2 linked regions of the Homo sapiens genome follow. The protein of the gene in region 2 interacts with the protein of the main gene of each other region in a biochemical or structural test. Each region holds a gene or a part of one and is shown on either strand. Other genes may lie near its edges. The genes, in order: PTPN11 and CSF3R.

The links.
Region 1: the proteins of CSF3R (region 2) and PTPN11 interact in far-western blotting, tested with the Homo sapiens proteins (one study listed by BioGRID).

Annotation. Positions count from the first base shown.
Region 1 is NC_000012.12:112,453,447-112,457,261, reverse strand, and holds part of PTPN11 (tyrosine-protein phosphatase non-receptor type 11), read right to left. Parts: intron 2,699-3,815; coding exon 2,582-2,698; intron 1,313-2,581; coding exon 1,199-1,312; intron 1-1,198. UniProt on the Homo sapiens protein: Acts downstream of various receptor and cytoplasmic protein tyrosine kinases to participate in the signal transduction from the cell surface to the nucleus. Positively regulates MAPK signal transduction pathway. Dephosphorylates GAB1, ARHGAP35 and EGFR.
Region 2 is NC_000001.11:36,476,330-36,480,144, forward strand, and holds part of CSF3R (granulocyte colony-stimulating factor receptor isoform a precursor), read right to left. Parts: intron 3,752-3,815; exon of another isoform or gene 3,658-3,751; intron 3,188-3,657; 5' UTR 3,168-3,187; coding exon 3,104-3,167; intron 1-3,103. UniProt on the Homo sapiens protein: Receptor for granulocyte colony-stimulating factor (CSF3), essential for granulocytic maturation. Plays a crucial role in the proliferation, differentiation and survival of cells along the neutrophilic lineage.

The sequences.
Region 1 (3,815 bases), on a different chromosome or scaffold from region 2:
AGAACACATGGACACAGGGAGGGGAACATCACACACACTGTCTGGGGATGGGGGCAAACTCCTGGATTCAAGTGGTCCACCTGCCTCACCCTCTCAAAGTGCTGAGATTACAGGAGTGAGCCACCACGCCCAGCCTATCATCACTTTTTCACTGATGCATTAAAGGGGAGGGAGAGCATTAGGACAAACACCTAATGCATGCAGGACTTAAAACCTAAATGATGGGTTAATGTGTGCAGCAAACCATGATGGCACATGTATACCTATGTACAAACCTGCACGTTCTGCACATATATCCCAGAACTTAAAGTATAATCAACAAAAATAATTTAAAAAAAAAAGAAATCAGTTCACTTAACTTACCAGAGTTATCAATTTGAACTCTGAAATTAAAGCCACCACATTTGGCACGTCAAAGCTGGAGGATCACTTGAGCCCAAGAGTTCAAGACCAGCCTGGGCAACACTGCAAAACCCCATCTCTACAAAAAAATACAAAAATTAGATGGGCATGGTATCGTGTGCCTGTAGTCCCAGCTACTCGGGAAGCTTAAGTAGGAGGATCACTTGAGCCCAAGAGTTCAAGACCAGCCTGGGCAACACTGCAAAACCTCATCTCTACCAAAAATACAAAAATTAGCCAGGCATAGGGGCATGTGCCTGTAGTCCCAGCTACTCAGTAGGCTGAGATGGGAAGATCACTTGAGCCCAGGGAGGACGGGGCTGCAGTAAACCGAGATCACGCCACTACACTCCAGCTTCGGCGACAGAGCGAGACCCTGTCTCAAAAAAAAAAAAAAAAAAGCCACCACAAGGTGTTTCTCTTTTACTCATACTCATTTGCTGCACTAAGGCTATAGATTGTTTCTAAAGACCCCAGTGCATGCTGGAAATCTTTCGAAGAAATTAGATCCTTTTGTTTCTCTGAGATTTTGCCACCAGTCCAAACCAAAAGAGCCAAATGGAGCGGCTAGCACATCCATTGACTACTCACTGCCAACTCCCTTCCCTCAGAACACAATGCTCTTCTGTTTCGAAGAAGCCCTCTCAGCAACTTGCTCCGTGTCAATCAATGGCCGAATTAAAAAAGGACGTCAGTTTCAAGTCTCTCAGGTCCAATTCCAAACACAAGAGCAACTTCTCCTCCACTAAAAATAGGATATAACAACTCACGTAAAAACAGTTTTTTAATAACTTACCTCAAATTCTTCCCAAAAGCCTTGTTTGACTTTATCTGTGGTCTCAGCTAATTTGCTTAGTTCTCGAACTCTGCTTTCTATTTCAGCAGCATTTATACGAGTCGTGTTAAGGGGCTGATCGAGTACAGCAGTTGATGTAAAATAAAGAAAATATTACAGAAAACGGTGTTAATGCAAAAAAAAAAAAAAAAACATGTCTATGTTGATATTCATAAAGGCACGGACAGAGGGTTCATAGGACCCTGTAATTCACAATAAAAGTTTTCAAATCGTTTCACCGTGTTTTCTGTTCAGCCAGAAAATGTATCTTTCTTCAGTCTTCACATACACTTTACTCTGCTGATATAAATTCAAGCCTATTTTTCTTTATGAATAGACCACATTATTTAGAGAGATTATATCATTTTCCACTATCATAAAGGTGAAATTTGAAATAGCAACAATGCCAAAGTGAATAAGTGAGGTTACCTAAAGGTAACCAGAAGTGGATCTATAATGAAAACTTGCTTTAAAACTCTGTACAGCCTTAGGCCAGATGCAGTGGCTCATGCCTATAATCCCAGCACTTTGAGAGGCTGAGGCAGGCAGATCACTTGAGGTCAGGAGTTCAAGACCAGCCTGGCTAACATGGTGAAACCCCATCTCTACTAAAAATACAAAAATTAGCTGGGTGTAGTGGCACCACCTATAATCCCAGCTACTCAGGAGGCTGAGGCAGGAGAAGCTCTTGAACCCGGGACGCAGAGGTTGCAGTGAGCCAAGAACACGCCACTGCACTCCAGCCTGGGCGACAGAGCAAAACTCCATCTCAAAAAAAAAAAAAAAAAAAAAGAACCTCTGTAATGCCTTTTACAGATAAATATGGGAATAATATAAATCTGGAATATGTTTCCAAGTACTATAGCGGCAGTCAGTGAGTGGAATCATAATAAGAAAAGATTTAGGGCCGGGCGTGGTAGCTCACGCCTGTAATCCCAAAACTTCGGGAGGCCAAGGCGGGCAGAAAACCTGAGGTCGGGAATTCAAGACCAGCCAGGCCAACATGGTGAAACCCCATCTCTATTAAAAACACAAAAACTAGCCGGGCATGGTGGTGGGCACCTGTAGTCCCAGCTACTCAGGAGGCTGAGGCAGGAGAATCGCTTGAACCCAGGAAGCAGAGGTTGTAGTGAGCCAAGATTGCAACACTGTACTCCAGACTGGGTGACAGAGTAAGACTGTCTCAAAAAAAAAAAAAAAAAAAAAGATTTGATAGTTGAAGCTGCAATGGGTACATGGAGGCTGATGATACTATTCTGTCTACCTCTGTATGTTTGCAAAATTCTCTATTAGGATTTGTTTTAAGTTTTTAAGGAGAAAGCTTGAGCTTTCCAATCTGCTCACCTGCTTGAGTTGTAGTACTGTACCCAATGTTTCCACCATAGGATTCTTCTTATAATGTTCCACAAGATCTGTCAAAGAATCAAACCGTTCTCCTCCACCAACGTCGTATTTCAGTTCCTTTCAAGATAAACACATGACATTTATTATTTGTTACCTTTATGTTACATTAGTGTTTTCAAGCACTCTCATGTTCACTGCAGCATTATTCACAATAGCTAGTATATAGAGACAACTTAAATGTCCATCAAAAGACAGATAATAGGCTGGGTGCAGTGGCTCACGCCAGTAATTCCAGCACTTTGGGAGGCCAAGGCGGGCAGATCATTTGAGGTCAGGAGTTCGAGACCAGCCTGGCCAACATGGTAAAACCCCATATCCACTAAAAATACAAAAATTAGCCAGGCTTGGTGGTGGACACCTGTAATCCCTGCTACTCAGGAGGGTGAGGCACGAGAATCACTTGAGCCCAAGAGGCAGAGGTTGCAGTGAGCCAACTGTGCTTCAGCCTGGGAGACAGAGGGAGACTCTGTCTCAAAAAAAAGATAAATAATAAAAATGTGGTGTGTGTATACAAATATACTAAAAGTGTAAATATACTCAATATACTCAAGTATGATAAGTATAATAATATATTAAATATGCTAATATACTAATACAGTAACTATACTAATATATTAAGTATAATAAAAGCATAGACGAACTTGACTAAGTAAGCAAAGAAAATCTGACTTTGGATCAGGCACAGTAGTTCACATCTGTAATCCTAACACTTTGAGAGGTTGAAGGAGGCAGGCCTCTTGAGCACTAGTTCAAGACCACACTGGGCAATGCGGCAAAACACCATCTCCACAAAAAATACAAACACTAGCTGGGCATGGTGGCACACACCTGTAGTCCCAGCTACTCAAGAGGCTGAGGGAAGATCAACTGAGCCCAGGGAGGTTGCACTCCAGCCTGCGTGACAGAGCAAGACCCAGTCTCAAATGAATAAACAAATGAATATTAAAAAAACAAAAACAAAAAAAAAAAAAAAACAGAAAATCTGACTTTGAATGTAATGGTGTTTGTCCTCTTCCAGCAGAAAAATCACCCAAAGATTTGGGTCACCAGACCCAACGTGGTGAAACCCCATCTGTAGGTGATAGAGCAAGACCCTGTCTCAAATAAATAAATAAATAAATAAATAAATAAAAGACAATCTGACTTTGAATGTAATGGTGTCTGTCTTCTGTCA
Region 2 (3,815 bases):
AGTTTTCTCATCTGTAAAATGGGGATAAAAATCGTCCCTACCTTAGTGTTGCTGGAAGGATTACATGCGATAACATATGGAAGGCATTTAGAGCAGTGTCTGGCATGTGAGTATTTGCTGCCATCATTAGGATAAACACTCAAATCCTTCAATAGCTCCTGTGGCCTGGCCCCTGCCTGACCCTCTCAGTTCCAGCTTATACCGGTCTCTCAGCTCCAGCTATTCTGGCTCATTCTTGCTATTCTTTGAAAACTCCAAAATCTTTCTAATCTCTGGATCTTTGTCCCTGCTGTTTTTTTTTTTTTGTTGTTGTTGTTTTGTTTTGGTTTTCTTTTTCTTTTCTTTTTTTTCTTCAAGTTCTTGCTCTGTCACTCAGGCTGGAGTGCAGTGGCACGATCACGGCTCAGTGCACCCTTGACCTCCTAGGCTCAAGTGATCTTCCCACCTCAGCCTCCTGAGTAGCTGGGACTACAGGTTCATGCCAGCACACCTTGCTAATTTTTTGATTTTTTTTTTTTTTGGTAGAGATGGGGTTTCACTATGTTGCCTAGGCTAATCTTGAGCTCCTGGGCTCAAGCAATCCTCCTGCTTCAGCCTCCCAAAGTGCTGGGACTACAGATGTGAACCACTGTGCCCGGCATGCTGTTCTTTTTGGAGGGACTCTTCTTTCTCTCTCCCACCCCTGTTTCACCTGGTTAACGCTTAGGCATCTTGAAGAAACCAGACCAGGCACTAACGAACTGGAGGAGGCCAAGGTCCCTGTACTTCCTCAAAGCTCTTATTATCCTTCATAATTATAGAGTCTTATGATTATTTACTTATCTATCACTCCAGCTAGACTATAAATTCTGTGAGGCCAGCAGACCTTGGCTGTTTGCTTATTACTGTATTCCCAGTGCCTAGTACAGAGTAGGACCTTGGTGAATATTTATTATTATTATTATTTTGAGAAGGAGTTTCGCTCTGTCACCCAGGCTGGAGTGCTGTGGCACAATCTCGGCTCACTGCAACCTCCGCCTCCCAGGTTCAAGCGATTCTCCTGCCTCAGCCTCCCGAAAAGCTGGGGCTACAGGCACGCACCACCATGCCCGGCTAATTTTTTTTTGTATTTTTAGTAGAGATGGGTTTTCACCATGCTGGCAGGCTGGTCTCGATCTCCTGACCTCGTGATCCACCCGCCTCAGCCTCCCAAAGTGCTAGGATGACAGGCATGAGCCACTGCGCCCGGCCGATGAATTTTTTTTGATAAATAAATAAACAAACAAATCAACATACACTTTGCCCGCAATGCTTTCTGTCCTCTCTCAGGTGTTCTTAGGCCCGTTTTACTGATGGGGATGCGAAGGCCCTAAGAGGAGAAGCAGTTTGCCCAGGGTCACAGAGCAAGTTCATGATTCTCAACAAAGGGCTTCTACTGCTTCACAGGCTCAGGATTTCTTTTTTTTTTTTGAGACGGAGTCACTCTGCTGCCCAGGCTGGAGTGCAGTGGCGTGATCTCGGCTTACTGCAAGCGCCGCCTGCTGGGCTCACGCCATTGTCCTGCCTCAGCCTCCCGAGTAGCTAGGACTACAGGCACCCGGCACCATGCCCGGCTAATTTTTTGTATTTTTAGTAGATACAGGGTTTCACTGTGTTCACCAGGATGGTCTCGATCTCCTGACCTTGTGATCCACCCGCCTAGGCCTCCCAAAGTGCTGGGATTACAGGCGTGAGCCACCGCGCCCGGCCCAGACTCAGGATTTCAGGCTGGAAGAAACTTTACAAGGTTGTTTGCTTCAAAACTCTACCTGATGCTCTGCCCTCTACAGCAGGGCTTGAGTGGCCTATTTTTGTATAGCCTAACAACTAAAGATGTTTCTTACATTTTAAAAGAGTTAAAAACAAGCAAAGCAAAAACCAAATAAAAACATGCCACAGGGCTGGGCGCGGTGGTTCATGCCTGTAATCCCAGCACTTTGGGAGGCCGAGGTGAGTGGATCACCTGACGTCAGGAGTTTGAGACCAGCCTGGCCAACATGGTGAAACCCCATCTCTAGTAAAAATACAAAAATTTGCAGGGCCTGGTGGCAGGTGCCTGTAATCCCAGCTATTCGGGAGGCTGAGGCAGGAGAATCGCTTGAACCCGGCAGGCGGAGGTTGCAGTGAGCTGAGATCCCGCTACTGTACTTCAGCCTGGGCAAGAGAGTGAGACTCCATCTCAAAAAACAAAAAAACAAAAACCAAAAAACATGCAATAGGCAGGGCGTGGCGGGTCATGCTTGTAATCCCCATACTTTGGGAGGTCAGGGCAGGTGGATTGCTGGAACCCAGGAGTTTGAGACCAGCCTGGGCAACATGGCAAAACTACATCTCTACAAAAAAATACAACAACAAAAAAAAATTAGCTGGGTGTGGTGGCATGCCCTGCACTACCTTGGAGGCTGAGGCGGGAGGATCACTTGAGCCCAGGAGGTTGAGGCTGCAGTGAGCTGCGATTGTGCCACTGCACTCCAGCCTGGGCAACAGAGGGAGACCCTGTCTCACAAACGAACAAACAAACAAACAAACAAACAAACAAGGAACAGAGACAGTATGTGGCCTGCAAAGCCTAAACATTACTGTCAGAAAAAGTTTGCCAACCCCTGCTGCACAGCATCTTTATCAATCCTGGCTTTAGCTTGCATACCCCTGGGGATGGGAAGTTCTCTACCTCTCAAGACAGAGTTTCCATGGTTGGAAACCAAGCTCTGCCTGGGCTTCTTTATTTCAGGATGAAACCTGTCCCCTTGTAGCTTCCATCCTGATCCCTTTGCTGCCCACCAAGGCTGCATAGGACCCATGGGTTGCTTCTGACAGCTTGGTAGAGATTTGCGGACAAGATCTGCGCCTCACTGGCCTTTTCCAGGATGACCAGCCCGGGTCGTCTCACCATTCCTCTTGGGTGGTGGTTTGCCTGTGGAAGTCTGTGGGTGGGAGACCAGCTACCCCACATCTGTGGCTCAGACTTGAATCTTGTGGGATTCTCTGGGAATCCCAGGAGCCATGTGGCAGTGCAAGGAAATTCCCAATATCTCTCCTTGTAGCTTCCCCTCCCCACTGCACCCTCATCCTTGGCCATACTCACTTCCGGGGAGCAGCAGGATGATCAGGGCAGCCCAAGTCAGGCTGCAGTTTCCCAGCCTTGCCATAGCACCAACTTGATGTTCACCTGTAGGCAGAAGGGTTGTTTAAGACCATGGGCTTTGGAGTCAGAGCTGATCTTAATCCTTGTCTGTCACTGTGCAGCTTTGACTAGGTTGCTTGACTTCTCTGAGCCTTCGTTTCTTTGCAAAATGGAAGTAACAGCAGCCTATACTGCATGGGACTTTGAGAGGAAGACACAAAATGATGCAAGTCAAGGGCTTTTCACAGTGCCTGGAACATAGGAAATGACAGTGACAGCCACAGTTATTATACTTGCCTTCCAGGAAAGAGCAGGGAAAGGAGCAGTGAGGAAGAGCATTCTTCCGCCTTCCCAGCTATCTAAGCTAGGCTACCCCTAGAGAGCAGAACCTGAGATGAGGAATTGCATGCTGGTAGTTTATTTTGAGAAGATCCTAGCAGCAGATAAGGGACTGGGGAGAATGAAACAGGGAAGGAGAGAAAGCCAGCACAAAGTTACATCATCATGTTGGTCACCTCTATGGACAACTGGGGCTCTATCCTGCTGGAACCTTCCAAAGAGCCATGTAGAACACTTCTCAGAGCTGTCCACTGGAGGGTCAATTTATCCCTTGGATGGGAGGGAAGATGGAAAGATTTACCCACTGACTCCTGCCCCCCATTGGTCAAGGGAT